Regions from separate parts of the Homo sapiens genome. Here all the other regions are reported to be linked to region 4. The links are microRNA targets in miRTarBase. Many come from high-throughput screens and were not tested one by one. Region 4 holds a microRNA gene; each other region holds the end of a gene's coding sequence. Distances are from middle to middle.

Region 1 (4,150 bases), not on the chromosome of region 4:
AACATGGTGATATTACAACTATAAAGACTTGACATTTTTGTTAAAAGAGAAAGTTCAAAGACAGTTAAGGGGAGTGTTAAATAATGCTGACTGGGGGGAAATGATATAGATACTTGCTTTTCAAATGAAAATCATGGACAAGTGGTAGTAACCATCCCATCTGAACAGAGTAATGTAATATAATTAGATACACAGTTTACAACGAAATAAGACTAAATTCTTAAAATTAGTTTGAAAAAAACCTGCAGTTTGTTTACATTAAAAGTCATACTTTACACCAGACAAAAACTCAATGCAGTGATGTTAACATGCTACTGTCTTCTAACAGAGATGGCCACCCTGAAAGACCCAAATAATGGTGCTGGAAAGGACACTGTCAAATACTGTCAGGTAGTTTTGCTACTGAGGCAGCCACTCATCCAGCACAAGGACTATAAAAGCAAATCAATCCTTTTAACAGAACAAGAACACAGTTACAGGTGCTACCACATTAACAGACTGTGAAAGTACAAAGTCTTTAGTGATTGTGCCTTGGGAAATAAATGGGTCAAGGAAAATAAAATGAGAAACAAACAAAGGATGTATGGAAAACTAGAGGTTAAAGGATACTATATGAACAACAGAAATTTTATAAAACAAAAATCTAAAAATGAAATACTTGACAGTGTCCCTTTGACATATATAAAAGAGGGCACAAATAATGTTTTTGTTTTAAAAAATATTTTAACAACAGTTTTAATAGAAAAAAAATCAACTGACTTGAATTAAGCCAGTGTTCTTGACACCCACTGGGCCAAGAGCATTAAAACAAAACAAGACCGGAGAAGTTAATAAACACAGCTAAAGACAAAATTGGACAAAATAAAACAAAAGAAAACACAAAGTGAATAAGCATCCAATCAGGCAAACATGGACACAACCACCCTGAAAAGGTCTAGCCGTTGCAACTCAGTGGCATCCCCATCACCTAAAAAATGGTAGTGGCTTCTCCCCACCCCAGTGAGCTAATATTCAACATTCTGCTGATCTTATAAGTATTATTTGGTCCAATCTGAAGAAGGTCTTTTTAAACTAAAACTAGTCTAATGAAATTACACCTCAGGAATATGGAGGTGAAATTTTCTATTTTTAGTATTGTAATAGGATCTGGGCAAATTTTGCAAATATGTTGCCATCTGGATAAAAGTTATTAAATATAGATGCCTTTTTACTTACCAAGGCATTCCTTTCCCACTCCTCTTTAGTTTTAATAACTTGATTATAGTTTTGTCATGGCGCGTGGACCTGTCCAGTCAATTGTGTGTTTCAGTGCCCTTTGGTAAAGAGACTGTACTTAGCACACACACAGATACACATAATTCACAACAGCTGAGAAAGCTTGAGGGATCTGGGAAACACAAAACACCAAGAACAATGCAAAACAAATAGATTACTGCTGCATATCACTTCAAGTTTTTTAAGGGGAAAAAAAAAACACCTAAAAATAAATGCATCAAAGTATTTTTTAAAATACAGAAACGTGTACTTCTGGATGACTGATATTAATTTCCTTCCTAGCAGTCTTTTCAAGATGTTTTTGCTTCCCCTTAATTGTGACTCAAAGCTAATCAAATTGAGAGAAATGTAAGTTATGGCCCAAGGCCCTGCATTCACATCTACCTAACATCACATGCACAGGTTGGATGTAATTCAGATGCTCCAGTTTTGTTAACTGTTAATAACACAGAATTATACAAAGTTTTGCACAGCATCACATGTAATGACACATATGCTATATGCAATCAGGTAGAAAAACCGTATTTGCAGAATGGTTTAATAGATAGGTGTCAGGAACATGGTGGAAGCAGAGTTTCATGAGTGCACCTGTGCCAGAGTCCTCTACCTGTCACTGTGCTGTGAAAGTACTGCAATGAGTGGAGTTTCATATGCCTGCTGTGTATAAATTAGCTTTCATTTCCACATTGTAAGCTGGCACACTGAATTAGGGGAGCCTGGCAGCTGTATAAAAATCCTGATTAAGAGATCAAACTAGAGGATCTAAAGTGAATTTTTAATCTCTGAAATTAAATTCACTGGCTCCCATGTCTGGATAAGAATTATTGCCCCTAATGCCCCAACGTGCAATAGTCTGTGTGAATCAGTGATTCACATCCTTTAAAATAATTATTGCTTAAGCAAGCCATTTAGAGTAGATATGGGCTATGTGGCTGGATAGAAACACACTCAAAAAGTTAGACTAGACGGAAACAAGCCTTTCATTTCACTGATAAACCTACATAAATACACGATCGAAAGGGGCAACAGGTTCATAGCAGCTAACACCCTAAACCAACTCTGAAGCATCAAGACGTGGTTTCTTACTAAAACAAATCAGCTGTTTTTGTATTTTCCTCTTAAAATTAAGGCAATGAAATGGCTACAGTTCCTAAGGTTATTTTTACGGAACAAAAATATACATGTATTTTCCTCCTCAAGTTCAGGCATCAGAGTATGATTAGTGACTTGTATTACACAAAACCTGCAGCACTGGGTTGATGTGAGAGAGAGAGAGAAAAGAAAGAGAGAGACAGAAAGCAAGAAAAGCAAGAAAGCAAGCAAGCAAGAAAGCAAGCTAAGAAAAAGCCAACAAACCCCTGGTGATGTTTCCCCTTCCTGCTGAATTATAAAACCCAATCATCAAAGGGAGGAAAAGCTAGAAAGCACAAAACCTCTTAAGAGTTTTCAATGTCTCTTTCATTGATTCAAAACTTTTGGGGTGACGAAAGGGAGAAGCTTATTAACATGAAGACTCCTGGGCCCAACAACCAGACATTCTGACTCTGAAGGTCTACAGTTGGGCCTAAGAATCTGCCTTTTCACCAGCTCCTCAAGTGATGCAGGCGATCTATGGAGATTTTGAGAAACACTGCCTAGCATATATCCATTTCATATTTAATGACAAAAATTCTAAACTTTGGCTAGCCACCTATGTTAAAAGGAAAAAAGGCACTGCATATGTATTTCGTGGTGCCCATATCTGTTTGCACATATATGGAATTTCATTTTGAAAATTTTAAATCACCATTCAGAATCTAAAAGACATATATATGACAGATTGTGGCTAACACTTAACAGCAGAAGCTGATGCCAAGTTGACCTCTCCTGTTTCACTGTATTACATACATATCAAAGTTTCAGGCTCTCCAAAATCCAAAATGGCCAAATGAACTGAGGAATAGGACAAGACTCAAGTCAACTTTCAGCAATTCAGTGCACTTTGCAGAAAGGATCTAAATTAAGCATAAAGTTCTGTTGTTTATTTTACACAAAGGAGACCACCAACATTTGCCATAAATTCTTCTAAACTCTTTAAGAAGGCCATCTTCTGCTTCCGATCCAGCGTAGGAGGAGTGCTGCTTGCAGTGAGCTTGTTGAAGGCATCTGCTAATCTCTGGTAAATAACTGGGTCTTGCTGACTTGATAGTAATGTTTCGACCAGTTCAGAATATTCAGCCTATTGAAGAGATAAAGTATACACAAGTATCCTCCTTAGAATATCATACAAGTAGATCTTATCAGTTACTGGACTGTGGGGTTCTAAAAGGCAGGGACACATTTTTAAGAGTTAACATTTAGAATAATTCAGCATTTAAGTACTACTGTTTGAAAACCTTTTACATGGATTAATTCATCTATCATTTACAACAATGCTTCGAGACAGGTACTGTTTCTATTCCCATTCCAGAGGTGAAGGTTTCGACACTCAGTGAGGTGAAGTGATATGGCCCAGATCAAGCAAGAGTCCACCAATCTAGCCCCAAGACCCATGTGATAATCAACTTTGTTGTGCTGCCTCTTCAAAGCACATTATTCCTATTTATGTTGCGTTTGACACATAATCTAAGTCTGCAATAGTTCCCCAGAGGTTAATAGAGATATCTGGTCCACCCAGTTCTGAGGACAGCAATGTGCACAAAGACAGGACAGGCAGGAGTCTTTTGGGAGGACGGGGCGGAGAAATATATTCCAGTGCCTTCTCCAAGTGGAGCAGGGCACTCTGAAAGCTCCAAACCAGCACTGTGCCCAGCAGCTCTTAGAGAAAGGGCAGGAAGAGGACTTTAGTAAATATAGGAATATGGGAAATTTTCTGTTTTTAATACTCTATTATAAA
Region 2 (4,150 bases), not on the chromosome of region 4:
CAGATAGATCGGCCAGTGCTCATTGCATTCAAAGCCCCAGACATAGTAGGGCTTTGACTTCTCTTTTCAACTTGGTGACTATGGCTTGCCGTTTGCAAAATAGAAAACTACATTTTATATCTTACAAGTTTTGAACAGTGTTGAACTTTGTTTACTGCATTTTAATCACTGCCTCCTTTTTTTGTTTTCTTAGCAAAATGAAGCCAAGTTGGATGAGATTTTAAAAGAGATCAAATCTATAAAAGACACAATCTGCAATCAAGATGAGCGTATTTCCAAGTTAGAACAGCAGATGGCAAAGATAGCAGCCTGAAGGTCCCACCCCCACCCCTACAGAAAAAATGGGAGCAAGAACTTGTGCTTGGGAGCTGGTTATTGGTGTGGTCCTAGGGAGGGCGGAAAGGGAGGCACTGCCATTTGGAGACATTCCATTTCAGATTTGTCAACCAGCGATAGGCCACATTCCAGTAAGAACTCAATTTGTCTCCCAAATTTGCAGAAACAAAACGTGATTTAAAAGCTGAGCTTTTTATCAGAAAGCTTTTTTGATGTTTTAAGTGTTATGTGACTTGTTGAACTTTTTAAAAAGTGCTACTTTTAAAATCCCAGATACTCTGAATTTTAGAAAACAAACTAATTCTGATTGTGTCGTGCCCAAGTACCCTTTTTTTTTTAATGAATAGGGACCAATGCCACATTGCTTTTTATATTTCTTTCTTTTTTAATGTTGCCAAAACCAAAAGTAGCTTTGTTTTCCTTTGTATTTTGCTACTTTGCAGTATTTGTGTGTGTGGTTTTTTTTCCTTAATTTGAAAGGGACAGCACTGTGTATGTTTATAAACTAAATGAAGATAAGATATTATTTTGTATAAACATTCATCTGAGAACAATCAAAGCAGTAGCCACATGGTGCTGGCTCCTTTGCAGCACAAACCTGGTCATTTTGATGACTGTACAACAGGAAGACTTGAAAAATCACGTGGATTCATATTACCACCGCTCTCATTTCATGGAGTCTTCTGATCAAAAAAGCTCACGTCGTATTTCTTCTTTTCCTTTCTCTTTTCTAGAAATTGGGTGTTTGTACCAGAATGGAATTTTGCTTCTCGGTTATCCTGTGCTTCAGATGATTATAATCTAACCCAAACTAGCATGTGTTTCTGCAGTTTGTTACACACCTAGGATCATATTGCATTCATCACTTTAAACATCATGTTTCAGGTTTTGGTCAATACTTGACAAGGGTGCCCAGGACAGGAAGACGTGTACTGCTGAGTGTTCCTTCTTGCCCTTTTCAGCAGCTTGCCCAGCTCTTGAGTACAGTGGTGGGGACTAAAAATGTGGGCATGTGGAGAGGGGTATTTGCCCTGGGTGATCCTGTTTCCCTGTGCTGTCCCCATGCTGTGTTGGAGGAGGAAGTGGCTCTCCTTCCACCAACAAAGCTCCTGCTCTACCCTCTTCCTCACATGTGCTGCGACCTCTCTCAGGGCTCCCCCAGCCATTCCTTCTTTCCTTCCTGCCTTTTAGCTCTAACCACATTAAGCTAAGACAAGGCCAGAGGGTGCGATTGAATGAGTATTGAGACTGAGGAGAATGATAGAGAGTGAAGCAGAAACAGGAGCACAGACCTCTGCTGTAGCTTTAATGCATACAAACATGTCCCTCCGCACAACTAACCTGCCCTGCCTCTCCATCTCTCACCAAGGCTGCGTCAAAGCACAGAGGCTCCCCGGACTCGGAGGGGGCCAGAGACTGAGCTCTGGTCACCTGTTCATTCCTCGGTTAGCTGGAACTTTGCCCCGTTTCCAGTTTCTTATAGTGCATGCTTGGGAAACAAGATTTAAGGAGCCTCTGTTTTGGAAGGGCTGTCTGTGATTGAACGTGAAATGTGTAGTGCCATTGGGACCACGAAGGGAATTCTTGCACATGCTCGTGCTGGTGTGGGCATGGGACTGGCTGGAAACGTCTGTATGCAGGGAGCCAGGGTGAGGGCAGAGTGTGGTGACAGCCGAACTTGGAGTAATGTCCGTGTAGAAAAAGGACCATGTTCTTATCCAGCCAATACTGGGAGTGCTGTCTCCACAATTTCAGGGCATCTGAATGTTTGATGTGGTTTTGTGTGTGTGTATGTATGTGTTTAATATTGAAGTGGATCATGAGATGTAAAGAAAACAATAATGGCAATGACTTATATTCAAATCTGTATTTGTTTCTTTATCAATGTAATCTGCTGAGGACCTTTTGTCTAAGATTCAGTAGTGTTTTAAGGTTCTGATATCGAATTAATGAAGTAAAGTTGTTGATGGTGGTGAAACACCGTAGGGCATGTGGTTCAAAGAGAAGCAGGAGGGCAAGGGAAAGTTACCCTGATCTTAGTTTGTAGCTTATGACTTATTTAATGAATGGATGCCCAGCCAAGCTCAGAGTAGGCGCCCAAAGCATTGTGGATTATTTTCCTGTTTTGTCTTTTTTTTTTTTTTTTTTTAAGCCATGACATCCCAGAAGAGGACAGTGAATTACTCCTAGGTCGGCTCTTATAGAGTGGCCATAGTGTTCTGTCAAAACACTTGCTTCCATTTTCAGAGATAAAAATCATTGATTACAAAATGGTGTTTGTGTTTATTTCACGCCTTGGCTGTCTGTGAGGCAGCCCCCACCTCTCTGCCTGACATAGCTTCTCTGACTTTGGTGGACGAGCACGGTGCCATACTCCTCTCCGGGGGTAAGTACAGGGGAAGCGCGTGTGGGTGGCTCAGTTCAAGTACAAGTGAGGTCTCCAAGCCAGTCAAGCACTGTGTTTTGGCTTCCAGCAGACCTGAGCCTTTGGATCCTGCCTCAGACCTTTGCCAGCGGTGTGTCCTGGGATGGGGTTCCTAATCCTTCTGAGTCCCTTTTCTTGAAAGGAGGATGATAATTCCATGTAGTTCAGATGAGAGGAATACCTGTGTGGCCACACAAACAACCCTCGCTGCATGGCCGCTACTGTTACTATTATGAGTTGATTTTCTGACAGAGTCTTTGAAAGCACTTTTTCTTCAATAGAAGCAAAATTCTCTTGGCTCAGCTGTGACTTTTATTCCAGCAGGCTTCCAGGGTCAGTTGAATTGCAGGGCTTCCCTTTCGCACTATGACATTGTCTCGTGACATTTCAGTGATTGTAGCAAAGAATTTCCCACTGTTTGCTTTTTCTGAATATGATGAATGGTCAGCATAAAGCTCCCCTTCCTCAAATGCCTTATCTTAAAGTTGCTTTAGTCTATGAGAAGAATGGCTGCCATGTTCTTGGTCCACTCGTGGCTGCAGGAAGTAGAAGTTGGCAGGGCTCTCTGTAGACCCGAGGTGCCCGCAGTCAGCCAGGAGACGCGTGGTGGTCTGTTTATGACTAACTTGTTTTCTCACTCGGGCCACCTTGATTCTTTGCCAGAAGACCTGAAGGTCAGCATGCTGGCCCCAGACAGCCAGCCAGACCTCGTCTGGGGGGAACTTCCATTTTTTTTTTCAAGGTCACTTCCCTTGCTGTACTTGGTATTCTACACCCAGAAAAACTCTTTGTTGGCTCTTAAGAATCTGTTAACTCTAAGTGGGCCCTTCTCTTTCTGCGGGCACATTAAGTATCCCAGTGCTGGCAGTGGGTCACGGACATGAGTCACCGTCAAGGGCACGCCTTTCCTGCTTCAGACGGGCAACCCTTGATGTCCAGGCCGGACAGTGCCCTTTGTGCTCTTTTATTCGTTAAAAAGAAGTCCCTTGCCAAAGAATGTAGGGGTGGCAGTCCTCTCCTGCGAAAAGCGGGTATGTGCGGGGTGGACAGCCTTTCCAGAGGGCAGTCTGGCAAGTGGATCAAAAGCCTTAAAGGTTTTCTTAAGACCCAAGATTCTCACCTTTGGAAATTTTGTCCCAGGGAACTAGTGGGAGGTATATTCAGGAATTAGAAGAGTAAAATCAACTCTGCAGAAGGGGGTCAGTAAGTTACTTGTCATATCCATATGTTATAATTCTGTTCCATTATTTAAAGTCATTTAAAAAGAGTATTGAATAGGAAACATTAAAAAAATAGTAAAATAAAGTCAATTCCAACTTGGGTTTAAAATATATACCTACCTAGGTTGAAACATGAAAGTATATTATTTCTGGGTGCTGGATGTCACTA
Region 3 (4,150 bases), 48 Mb from region 4:
GATTGCTCACTTCAAGAATGTATGACCTACTGGGGCACTATAGGAAAATGTCATTTTAACTTTGACAGTGAATCTCAAGCCCATGTATTTTGTTTTTATAGCTGCCTGCCTCTCAAACATCACATGGTGACCACTCCAACACTACTACTGTGGGGAGAGAATGACGCATTCATGGAGGTTGAGATGGCTGAAGTCACAAAGATTTATGTTAAAAACTATTTCAGGCTAACTATTTTGTCAGAAGCCAGTCATTGGCTTCAGCAAGACCAACCTGACATAGTGAACAAATTGATATGGACATTTCTAAAAGAAGAAACAAGAAAAAAAGATTGACTTTTCTTTATCTTCTATGAAGGGTCTGTAATGAAATCTCTAAATAATTTTTAAAAATTGTTCATCAACTTCTTTATGTTTTATTAGAAAAAAACTGTTTTAATGTGCTTTATCATAAATAAATATCCTGACAAATGGTATTGAAAAAAATCTGAGATCATGTGAACATATAATACAATGTTGATTTTCTTCTGGTGTATTTTGCACAGACAAGCATCTGCCTTAAAATATATACACTTGTACAAAAAGGAAGTTTGGAGTAAGTGCTTCCATTTTGGTTTCTTGCTTTTTTTTACTCTGTTAACATATGGTGCCTTTTACAAATGTATATTAAAGATTAGCTGTGCCATATTATAAGGCAAACCTGAAATAATATAAATTTTCATTCTATTGTTCAAAAATTCTTTTTACTATTTTTAACCATTAAAAAGTTATATTATCGAATCTCTTTGGATTTATAGTATATCTATTAGTTTGAAGGCAAATATAGCTAAATGAATATGCATTTTTAAAATGGGCCATATACTATTTATACTGGGAACATTAAACCATTTTTTAAAGCTGACATCTTGGCTGGGCGTGGTGGCTCATGCCTGTAATCTCAGCACTGTGGGAAGCCAAGGCGGGAGAATCACTTGAGACCAGGAGTTTGAGACCAGCCTGGCCAACATGGTAAAACCTCATCTCTACCAAAAATAAATAAAAAATAAAAGTGGGCAGGCGTAGGCGTGCACACCTGAAGTCCCAGCTACTCATGAGGCTGAGGTGAGAAGATCGCTTGTGTCCAGGAGCTTGAGGTTGCAGTGAGCCATGATTGGGCCATTGCACTCCAGCCTGGGCAATGGAGTGAGACCCTGTTGGAACGGAAAGGGAAAGGGAGAGGGAAAAGGAAGGAAAGGATCCTTTTACCCCATTCAATGCAACGAGAATTGAATATTACACATCTTATATGCACTAGAATCTAAGCTCCACAGGGCAGGGATTTTTTTGTTGTTTTATTAACTGATACATATTCAAGTCTAGACTAAGGGCCTGGCATATTGTAGGCACTCAAACATTTGCTTAATGAATAAATAATATATCTGGCACACTGCTAGGCACTGCGGGGGGGTGGGGAATATAAAAGAAAGATAAGGTGGTAACATAGAACTTTCCCATAAGAAGCCTTAAGGGCTGGGTGTGGTGGCTCATGCTTGTAATTCCAGCACTTTGGGAGGCTGAGATGGGTGGATCACCTGAGGTCAGGAGTTCGAGACCAGCCTGGCCAACATGGTGAAACCTCATCTCTACCAAAAATACAAAAATTAGCCGGGGATGGTGGCAAATGCCTGTAATCCCAGCTACTTGGGAGGCTGAGGCAGGAGAATTGCTTGAACCTGGGAGGCAGAGGTTGCAGTGAGCCAAGATTGCACCACTGCATTCCAGCCTGGGCAACAAGAGCAAAAAAAAAAAAAAAAAAAAAAAAAAAAAAAAAAAAAAAGACGCATACATAGAATGCAGTCAAATTAAATAAAGGTTCAAGAGTAGAAATGAACATTATAAGTAAGAGTTGAAAAGAGTTACAGAATAGAGAACAATACCAACTCAGGGGACTACTACTCATTCTTTTGGGTTGTTCCCCTTTAACATGGGAGGCAACCAGTAACACTGCCAAATCACATCACAGAACAAATAAGCCCTAAATTGGTGAAAGGATTGCTTCCCTCATTAAGCATAGTTCTGATCGTGACAGAACAAAGGAGAATGTCCCTAAGAATTCTCATTACTGTATCACAGCAAGTTGTATTTACAACAAAAATCCAATTCTCTATACAACACATTGCTTCGTAACAACATGCAAGGTAGGTATCACCAATTTATAAATAGTAAAAATGTGATTTAACGTGTAACTTTGCCAATGCCCATAGTGTAAGTTCTGGAGCTAGGATCTGACCTAGAGCCATCTGGTGGTAAAGCCCATGATCCCACTTACACCAGATACCATTTAGCAGACTTGTGGTATCCACGCCACTCTTCCTGTTTCAGCAGTAATCTGGTGTGTTTCAATAGATGGCCATATCTCTCAGGAACCTACAATTTGACTTTTAATTTTGGGAGGGAAAAGGAATTCAAATTAGCCATTAGTAAACATAGGAATATTCTATAGAGCATTGTCAGAGTTGCAAATGCCACAAGGTATAGAAAAATCCTGGTTCATACCAACTTGTTGCTTCCCTCTTGATCCCTCCAGAAGGGCAGCAACAAGGGAAAGAATGGGACGTGTTGACACAGTAAAGTAATCCTGACTTATTTTAATAAAAACCTGTTACTGACAAAGGTGATTTTAAGATTTGTTGTTGTTGCTACTTATGTCAGTTTAGGAAGCTGACAAGTTCATGTGGACTAATTTTAAGAATTTATCAATCAAACATTCCATGGGCAATTCCGGCCTATTACAATGAATGTACTCTAATTTTTAATAGATATGGAAAAGTACTTGTAACAGATATAAAGCCTCAAGGGTGCCATCTTGAGTTAAACCTCTTAGGATAAACAGTTATTACTATCTCTGTAGAAATCTATTGGTAGGGCAAGTAAGTGAATTTGATTTACTAGCTGCCAAAGCAGCTCACAGTAAATAAAAACAGGTAATGGCACCTAAATTAAAAGTTGTAATTATTAATAATATTCATCTATTCAAATTAATATATCCCTAGTAGTATATAATATATGCCTAATTTAACATCAGAAATTGCTATGTGAAAATAATTTATTAGGCATATGTCAAAAGCAAGATGTTTGCAAAAAAAGAAAGAAAGAATGTGCTGTTGATATGATTCAAATTCTCCTGTTACATCATTTACCATCTTTGATTTTTCTGATTTTAAAGGTAATGCAGCATTTTCTATTAACCTACAATTTCCTCTAACAGTTCTAATTATGTGCAAACAGAAAAAGCAGTTGGATGTGGGGAAGGGTGCATGTCAAAGGCTGCCCCCAAATCCAGGCTACACACAGCCTGGGTCTGCTAAGTCGGTTTCACGGCTCTGCATCCACAGACTCTGAGTTGGAGGCGAAGGAGTCTGGGATCACGCAGGAGCTAATCAAGTCCTTGTATCCTCAGCAGACACGCCTCTGTGCATGGTGCTGGACCTGCATCATCCTCGTGGGTACGAATGTCCTGCATCGCCTTCCTCTTCATCTGGCCAGTGGCCATGCTTTCCACCTTTGGCTATCCTGCTCAAATCCTGCAACCCTGCCAAGAGTTGGAGAAAAAAAACTGGTGAAACCAGTACTCAAGCTCATGCTTCAGGTGGCTTTCTTTTTACTTGGGTTCCTGGCTAAAGTGAAAGGGAAAAAGGCAACCCAAGACAAGGCCCCTATCTTCGTTACAGCACCACGGTCCACTTTCTTTGACTCAATCCCCTGTGTGGTGGCAGGGTTACCCTCAGTGGTCTCTGCAAGTCAAAATGTGCAGATCCCATTGGCTGGGAAATTCCTACTGTCAACACAGCTGGTGCTTGTGATTTGAGAAGACTCCCATTCCAGGAAGAATACTAAGGATGAAATCCTGAAGTGAGTGACATTTGGAAAGAAGTGGCCACAGATTCTGATTTTCCTAGAAGGTGTGTGCATCAATCGCTCCCGTCTAGTCACTTTTAAACCAGGGGCCTTCTGTCCAGGTGTTCCTGTGTAGCCAGTGCTGCTCAGGTACCCAAACACCCTGGACATGGCAATCTGGACCTGGCAGGGATTCACAGCCTTACAGGCCTGTATGTTGACACTCAGTCAACTCTTCACCAGGGTAGAAGTTGAGTTTATGCCTGTTTATATCCCA
Region 4 (4,000 bases):
TTATCGTGTCTATATTCGGTCACTGTTCGGGACAGTTCCCACTACTGGGGAATGGTTCCCACTGGATGGATCATAGCCTGAGTGGAGAGAATAAAAGCAGATGAGGCTGGCCATGTAGGAACATACAAGGAAGGTGGAAAGGCCAGGGGCTCTGAGTATCAAAGCCTGAGTAGCTGTATTCTATGAACTCCAAGCACCACTCCCCCGGGTATTGGAGCCTTGATAGAGCTCCTCGTTTCCTTGGTTTCAGGCTTCCTGCAAAGAATTATGAGTTTGAGCTGGGCACAGTGGCTCAATGCCTGTAATCCCAACACTTTGGGAGGCCAAGGCGAGAGGATCGCTTGAACTCAGGAGTTTAAGACCTGCCTGGGCAACATAATGAAACCCTGTCTCTTAAAAAGAAATCTGTGAGAATCCAGTTAAGTTCCTTTTACAGATACCATCCAGGGGCCTGACTTATTTATCTATCTATTCCTTTAGGGTTGGGGATTTGTTTTGTTTTTACCCTTAAAGCCTTAATGTGGAAAAGTGCCTGAAGTGCTGATTGTAGGGAATGAAACTTGATTCAAGGTTTAAACACCTTATCCCAGCCACTCGGGAGGCTGAGGCAGGAGAATGGCGTGAACCCGGGAGGCGGAGCTTGCAGTGAGCCGAGATTGCGCCACTGCACTCCAGCCTGGGCAACAGAACGAGACTCCGTCTCAAAAAAAAAAAAAAAAGGGTTAAACACCTACAGCTCCTTATGAATTAATAACCCACTCAGTGCTCAGTGCCTGGCAAGCTGTAACTTTCCTTCTCTTCCCATAGGCCTGCTGAATTAGCCACCAAGTACGCAAACTTTTCAGAGGGAGCTTGCAAGCCTGGCTATGCTTCAGCCTTGATGACGGCCATCTTCCCCCGGTAAGTGCTCCTGTTTCCCTCCACTGCCTAGACAGCCTGGTCTGGGGTCCAAGAGCCAGAAACTCTGCCTCTCACAGCCAGTCATGTTCTCCTATGCTCTGGAAACCATGGGTTCCTGGAAAGGACTCTGCCTTTAAGTTGGTTCCTACTCCAGTCCTACTCCATGCCGTTGCTTTGCCTTACTCCCATCCTGCCTCTGGAGCTTGCACCTTGTGGCACAGCCTGTTTCTGCAGAAGGATAACCTACATGGTTGCCGCATGCAAGCCAGGTATCCAGAGGCAGCCAGAGAAGGCTGCCAAGCACAGAAGCTCCTAGACCTAGTATCAGTGGCCAAAGAAACTTTTTTGGAAGCTTGGACCAACTAGCTGGCTTCAGGGAGGCATATCCAAATAAAGCAGGGAACAAAGAGAAATTTCTGAGGCTGTCTTGAGTTTTAGCACTTTCCTTCTCTGTCCATTTTGCATTCTGGAGCTGCTGACTTCTTTGGCACCTGAAAGAATCTGTGCATAACCCAGGGAGTTCCTTTTACCGAATGCTGCTAAGGGGTCTTGCTTACTGATCCACCTTCTCCTTTTTGGTTTTCTTTTCTGAAGCCTTGGTGTGGAAAAGGAGCTGAAGTGCTGAGATTGTCTTTGGAGTGCAGTGAGACTGTCAGGGTCATTTCGTTCCTTCTGATTTGGAGGGGCTGAAGGAAAGGCTGCCTAGGATTGTCTGGGCACTTGGACCACCAGAGGAGTGCTAGGGGTGGGCTCTGCTCACTGGGGGAAGGACTTGCCTCCCATCCCTTAGAAGGCTGAGGTTAGGACACGTAATGTGCTTGCAAAGGAATGCTGAGAAACAGCTCGCCCCAAAGTGACTCCGGTATATTTGGTTTTTATGCTCCCTTTCTTTTCTAACGTGAGCAGTCTCAGCTTAGCTCCTTGTGTAAAGCAAGGGCTATGCTGGCTGAGTATCTGGTGCTCAGATAGAGATCTCTTTGTCCAGGGTCTGCCTTCTGAATTGATTCCAAATATTTTGCTTCCTCCAGCTATTTATTGAGTGCCCCTGTGTCTGGCTTTTTGTGTTCTGTATTCTTAACACAGGTTTTTGCAAGCCTATACGACTCAGTCCTTAGCCCAGACACTTGTGAGTTTTCCTTTACCAGTATATAGGTTTCGTTTGCTTTTTCTAATTGAAAGTAATACAGGCATGTGGAAACAAAACAAAACAAAAAAACCTCAAACAGTACAAAAGGTTATATACTGCCACTCCAGACTCCTTCCCCAGAGACAGCCAATATTACCAAAAGTGGGAACATAACTGTATTTAATATTCTGTACTGTGTATTAGGCCGTTCTTGCATGTCTATGAAAAAACATCTGAGACTGGGCAAATTGTAAAGAAAAGAGGTTTAATTGGCTTATGGTTCATCAGGCTTTACAGGAAGTATGGTGCTGGCACCTGCTTCACTTCTAGGAAGGCCTCAGGAAACTTAAAATCATGCCAGAAAGCAAAGGGGGAGCAGGCACGTCATATGGCAAAAGCAGGAGCAAGTGAGTGAAGGAGAGAGAAAGAGAGGAAGTGCTACGCACTTTTAAACAACCAGATCTCACAAGAATTCACTCATTTTCACAAGAACAGCACCAGGGGGATGGTGCTAAGTCATTCATGAGAGACCACCGCCATGATCCAGTCACCTACCACCAGGCCCCATTGGAGATTACATTTTTTTCCCTTCCTTTTTTTTTTTTTTTTGAGACAGGGTCTTGCGGTGTTGCCCAGGCTGGAGTGCAGTGGTGCGATCTTGGCTCACTGCAGCCTTGACCTCCGGGCTCAAGCAATTAGCCACCTCAGCCTCCCAAGTAGTTGGGACTCCAGGCGCATGCAACCACACGTGGCTAATTTTTGTATTTCTGGTAGAGGTGGGGTTTTGCCATGTTGCCCAGGCTGGTCTCAAATTCCTGGGCTCAAGCGATCCACCCACCTTGGCCTCCCAAAGTGCTGGGATTACAAGTTTGAGCCACTGAGCCTGTCTGGGGATTACCTTTCAACATCAGATTTGGGCAGGGACAAATATTCAAACTGTATCATTTTGTCCCTGGCCTCCACAAATCTTATGTCCTTCTCACATTTCAACATACAGTCATCCCTTCTCAATAGTCCCTGCGAAATCTTAACTCATTCTAGCATTAACTCAAAAGTCCTACTGTGGTCCTGTGATCTCGCCCTGCTTCCACTTGCCTTGTGATATTCTATTACCCTGTTAAGTACCTGATGTCTGTCACCCACACCTATTTGCACACTCCCTCCCCTTTTGAAAATCCCTAATAAAAACTTGCTGGTTTTTGTGGCTTGTGGGGCATCACGGATCCTACCAACGTGTGATGTCTCCCCCGGATGCCCAGCTTTAAAATTTCTCTCTTTTGTACTCCGTCCCTTTATTTCTCAAGCTGGCCGACGCTTAGGAAAAATAGAAAAGAACCTACGTGATTATCAGGGCAGGTCCCCTGATACTAAGTCCCAAATCTAAATTCTTATCTGGAAATGAGTTCCTTTCACCTATGAGACTGTAAAATCAAAACAAGTTGCTTACTTTCGAGATACAATGGGGGTATAGGCATTGGGTAAACATCCCATTCCAAAAAGGGGTAATCAGCCATAAGAAAGGGGCTATACGCCCCATGCAAGTTTGAAACCCAGCAAGGCAGTCATTAAATCTTAAAGCTCCAAAATTATCTCTTTTGACTCTGTGCCCCACATTCAGGGCACACTGGTGCAAGAAGTGGGCCCCCAAGATCTTGGGCAGCTCCGCCCCTGTGGCTTTGCAGGGTGCAGCCCCTGTGGCTGCTCTCATGGGCTGGCGTTGAGTGCCTGAGGCTTTTTCAGGTGCAGGGTGTAAACTGCTGGTGGATCTACCATTCTGGGGACTAGAGGATGGTGGCCCCCTTCTCACAGCTCCACAAGGCAGTGTCCCAGTGGGGACCCTGTGTGAAGGCTCCAATCCCATGTTTCCCCTCCACACTGCCCTAGTAGAGGTTTTCTGTGAGGGCTCCACTCCTGCAGCAGGCTTTTGCTTGGGAAGCCAAGCTTTTCCATACATCCTCTGAAATCTAGGTGGAA
Region 5 (4,150 bases), not on the chromosome of region 4:
GTAAATTCACCTCTTTGAAATAAACAGTGACCCTGGAGAAAGGTGAATTCCAAATCTAGTACCATATTCAAGTCATCTGGCAGAGAAGCAGGCATAAAAGAGTTTTCTAGGTACTTGAGGTGCTGCTGTAACAAATACCTAAAAGTAGAAAAGTGGCTCTGGAATTGGGCAGTAGGTGGAGGCTGGAAGAATTCTGAGGAGCATGCCAGAAAAGAAGCTAAACTGCCTTAAACAGACTGTTAGTAGAAATATGGAATGTTAATGCTAGGGCGGCCTTGAAGAAAGGAGCATAATAGAGAATACCTCGATTGCCATAGAATATCTAAATCATCATGAATAGACTGTTGGTAAAAAATGAGGAATATGTTACTGGAGAAGTGGAGGAAAGGAGTCCTTGTTACATAGTGGCGAAAAGCTAAGCTGAGTTGTGTCCTGCCGTTATGTGTAAAGCAGAACTTTTAAGTGATGACTTCAATATTTAGCTGAGGATATTTCCAAGCAAGCTGTGGAAGGTACAGCCTGCTGTCTTCTTGCTGATTATAGTAAAATGTGGAAAGAGGTAGATTGAGGGAAGACCTGTTAAATATAAAGAAACCAGGACTTGATGATTTGGGAAATTCGCGGCCTATTCAAATGGCAAAAGCCACTAAAACTAAGATTCACCGTCAGGACAGCCTTTACTCTAGAGAAAGTGATGAAGATATGGCTGTATAACCTTTTGCTAATACTTCAGAAACATCAAAAGGTCTGAATATCAGGTCACACACAAGACTCTTTGAAGATATTAAGGGTGTGAATCATAGATCCTCTCAGCTATTTCAGAAAAAGCCAAAAACAGAGACAGGATTTTCCAGGAAAGATACGTGAGGAGCCTCCTATCTAAATGAGTGCATCCCTGTGACATATGTAAAAGACCCACAAGTTTCTTGACAACGTTATAGCAGCAGAAGCACCACCATTTTTAACAGAAAGCTTTAGAGAATATAAAAGAAGAACAAACTGATAAGTTGATACTCAGCTGCAAACGTGTGCTACCTTTTGTGAAAAAGTAAAGATGACTCTGAGACAGTCAACAAGCCCAGAGAACAGCAGTGAGCTGAAGATTACTCCCAGGCCTTGAAACTTAAAGAAGGGTGCCTCGCTGGTTTTGTAAATTGATTGGTGCTGATGGCTCCTTTTTCCATCTGTTTCTGCTTTTTGAACAGGAACGTGTGTAACTATTATTGTCTGCCTGTCATGCCATCATACTTGGGAACAGATAACTTGTTTTCTAGGTTCACAAGTGCACAGTTGGAATTATGTCCCAGAAATCACACACAGATCCTCTCCCAAACTTAATTTAGATGGCTTCAATGTGAGATTTGAGACTTTTGAGTTGGTGAGACTCAGATAAGATTTTGGATTTAGAGTTGATGCTGTAATAATGGATTGTGACTTTTGAGCACCTATGAGTGATGTAAATTTATTTGTGATGAATCTGAATCTTTAACACAGGAGTGGAGCGGGGGGTGGGTGGGAACTGTAGTAGGCAAGAATAATGTTCCATGTAAAATGTTAATGTCCTAATCTCCAAACCTGTATGTAACCTTAGATGGTAAAAGAGATTTTGCAGATGTAATTAAGGTTACTATGGATTTCAAGACAAGGAGATAAGCCTAGATTGGATATCCGGTGGGCCTCATTTAATCATGAGTCCTGCAGAGAACCTCTCCACACTGGTGTCAGAGAGATGTGGTAACAGAAGGGTCATAGAGATGAAACAGCACTGGTTTTTAAGATGGAAGAAGGAGGTCACAAGCCAAGGAATGAGGATGTCCTGTAGAAGGTGGAATGACAAGGAAATGATTCTCCTGTAGAGCCTCCTAACAGAATGCAACCCTGCCAACAAATTGATCTTGGCACCGCGAAACTCTTAACCTGGACTCCTAACCTACAGAATTGTGAAGATAATAAATTTGTGCTATTTTAAGCCACATTTTGTAACTTGTTATGGTGGCAATGGAAAACTAACCAGAAGTAATAATTAAGGATGAAATGGTGTCTAGGAAGAAGGAAAAGCTTCTGGCTTCAGCAGAAATGCAAACATTTATGCTGGTAATTCTTTAGATCTAGTCCGTCTGACAGAATTTACATTCCTGTATTTCTACACTAGTCTTGTTCTGGAGAAGACATTCTAGGTTGAGCACACAGAATAGTGTTTAGTGTATACAGTGAGTTTCCTAGAAAAATGTGTTGAATGAATAAATGAATGTGATCAACGCAAGCTCTGGGAGGAACTGTAATTACTTGATTTTAAAATATTGTTGCTGTTTACCATATCTTCTTAAGAACTGCTGACCTTTAGGCTGGGCGTGGTGGCTCATGCCTGTAATCCCAGCACTTTGGGAGGCTGAGGTGGGTGGATCACCTGAGGTTCGGAGTTCGAGACCAGCCTGATCAACACAGAGAAACGCTGTCTCTAGCAAAAGTACAAAAATTAGCCAGGCATGGTGGCGCATGCCTGTAATCCCAGCTACTTGGGAGGCTAAGGCAGGAGAATCTTTTGAACCTGGGAGGCGGAGGTTGCGGTGAGCAGAAATTATGCCATTGCACTCCAGCCTGGGCAACAAGAGCAAAACTCCATATCAAAAAAAAAAAAAAAAAGAATTGCTGACCTTTATGTGTTTCTGTTTAAGTTCACAACAGTCATAATTCTGTAAAATACAAGGCAAAACTGTAGTTTCTGATACTAGTAATATATCTAAATCAGTAAGTAAAAAGGATGTGTAAAATCTTAATAGGAGAAATAATTATTGTATGATCAAACAATTTCAAAATCAAAAGACACGTTTCAGTATATATTATAGACAAATTTTCAACTTATTTGATCAAAAGATTTCTTAATGGCTGTTGGTCAATGCTGCATCAAGAAACTTTAGTGCAAATTTTACCAAATGCATTTATCAAAAAGGGGTTTTGTTCATTTTTCTCTGCAAACAAATGTTGTTACATTAACACTAAGCATGTAACAACTCATTTGCCTAGAAATCCAAAAACTATCAACATAAGCCAGTCCTTCAACTAAAAACTCAAACATACTTATCTCAAGGTCTATTCCTAATCCAAATTTGTCTATATTCAGATTGGAAGACAGAATAACAATAAAACCAAAATTTATCTGTAAAAATAATAAAAATAATTTGGCTGTTTTTAATGCTGAAGTATTGTCCTTATTAATACGGCACATCATCTATTCCCACATGCTACTGCATGGACAGGAACAATATTATTTTAGTTGCTGGAGTAACACAGTGTTAAGAATATCTGCTTCTAGCAGTGTCAGGCTTTCATCTGTTAGCTCTTTATTCGGAAATGAAGTCACAAGAATAAAGTCAAGAGCCGCAAATTCAGGACGAGACTGTACAATAAAGTTCCGGACATCCAGGATCCTGAAGAAATAAGACAAAAATAATTTGTAATATAAAAAATCATATTTTCATGTAAACTTAAAACTGAATCATAATAAAAATCACAAAATTTTAATCTTTATATAAAGGTGTTGTAACTTTCTTTAATATATAGTATTTCAATTGAAGGATTTATCTTAGGCTTCAGTTAAAATGTAAAGTAACTTTAGTGTGTACTTAACATTTACTTTTCCTGTAAAATGGAAACAATCTTCAGGTAAGTTATGAATAAAGTAAGTGTACTAATGTTGTTATTTTAAAAGTGCAGGTCCAGCTGGGCACGGTGGCTTACGCCTGTAATTCCAGCACTTTGGGAGGCAGAGGTGGGCAGATCACTTGAGGCCAGGAGTTCAAGATTAGCCTGGCTAACACGGTGAAAACCCCGTCTCTACTAAAACCAGAAAAAATTAGCTGGGCATGGTGGTGGCTGTCTGTAATCCCAGCTACTCAAGAGGCTGAGCATGAGAATTGCTTGAATCTGGAAGGCGGAGTTTGTAGTGGGCTGAGATTCCGCCACTGCACTCCAGCCTGGGAGACAGAGTAAGACTCTGTCTCAAAAAAAAAAAAAAAAAAAAAAAAAAAAAAAAAAAATGCAGGTTGTACTTTTTTCGGAGTATAAAATGTGTTAGCAGCATATGACCCAGAAAAAGGTAACTATGATTGGCCTGTGGCAAGGTGAGTCTAAAACTATGAAATGTGCTATC

What was found. Region 4 holds the annotated microRNA hsa-miR-6079 (UUGGAAGCUUGGACCAACUAGCUG, at 1,246-1,269, shown strand). A microRNA usually pairs through its seed, bases 2 to 8, with sites in the 3' UTR of a target mRNA and lowers its output. Matches are read on the target gene's strand: a 7mer-m8 pairs with bases 2 to 8, a 7mer-A1 pairs with bases 2 to 7 and ends in A, and an 8mer does both.
Region 1: miRTarBase lists XPO4 as a target of hsa-miR-6079. Seed matches in the 3' UTR shown: 7mer-m8 at 1,839-1,845.
Region 2: the mRNA of CORO1C is a reported target of hsa-miR-6079. Seed matches in the 3' UTR shown: 7mer-m8 at 2,570-2,576.
Region 3: miRTarBase lists EPHX4 as a target of hsa-miR-6079. The part of its 3' UTR that is shown has no 7-base or 8-base seed match.
Region 5: miRTarBase lists UBXN2B as a target of hsa-miR-6079. Seed matches in the 3' UTR shown: 7mer-A1 at 3,123-3,129.

What each region holds. Positions count from the first base shown.
Region 1 is chr13:20,780,427-20,784,576 of GRCh38, forward strand. XPO4 (exportin 4) reads right to left here. Exons shown (of 23, transcript NM_022459.5): 23 at 1-3,493. The coding sequence ends at 3,296. Among named protein-coding and RNA genes, the nearest start is that of EEF1AKMT1, 8.5 kb to the left of the region's middle.
Region 2 is chr12:108,643,566-108,647,715 of GRCh38, reverse strand. CORO1C (coronin 1C) reads left to right here. Exons shown (of 11, transcript NM_014325.4): 11 at 194-2,607. The coding sequence ends at 313. It overlaps LOC105369968 (a long non-coding RNA gene), which reads right to left. Exons shown (of 3, transcript XR_007063449.1): 3 at 1,051-4,150. Among named protein-coding and RNA genes, the nearest start is that of MIR4496, 9.8 kb to the right of the region's middle.
Region 3 is chr1:92,062,954-92,067,103 of GRCh38, forward strand. It overlaps EPHX4 (epoxide hydrolase 4), which reads left to right. Exons shown (of 7, transcript NM_173567.5): 7 at 102-585. The coding sequence ends at 333. It also overlaps the pseudogene LPCAT2BP. Among named protein-coding and RNA genes, the nearest start is that of SETSIP, 10 kb to the right of the region's middle.
Region 4 is chr1:43,837,412-43,841,411 of GRCh38, forward strand. It overlaps MIR6079 (microRNA 6079), which reads left to right and starts at 1,211; the gene lies at 1,211-1,272. ST3GAL3 (ST3 beta-galactoside alpha-2,3-sialyltransferase 3) reads left to right here. Exons shown (of 12, transcript NM_006279.5): 5 at 808-900. RefSeq lists an enhancer at 3,271-4,000.
Region 5 is chr8:58,446,667-58,450,816 of GRCh38, reverse strand. It overlaps UBXN2B (UBX domain protein 2B), which reads right to left. Exons shown (of 8, transcript NM_001077619.2): 8 at 1-3,428. The coding sequence ends at 3,266. Among named protein-coding and RNA genes, the nearest start is that of UBXN2B, 37 kb to the right of the region's middle.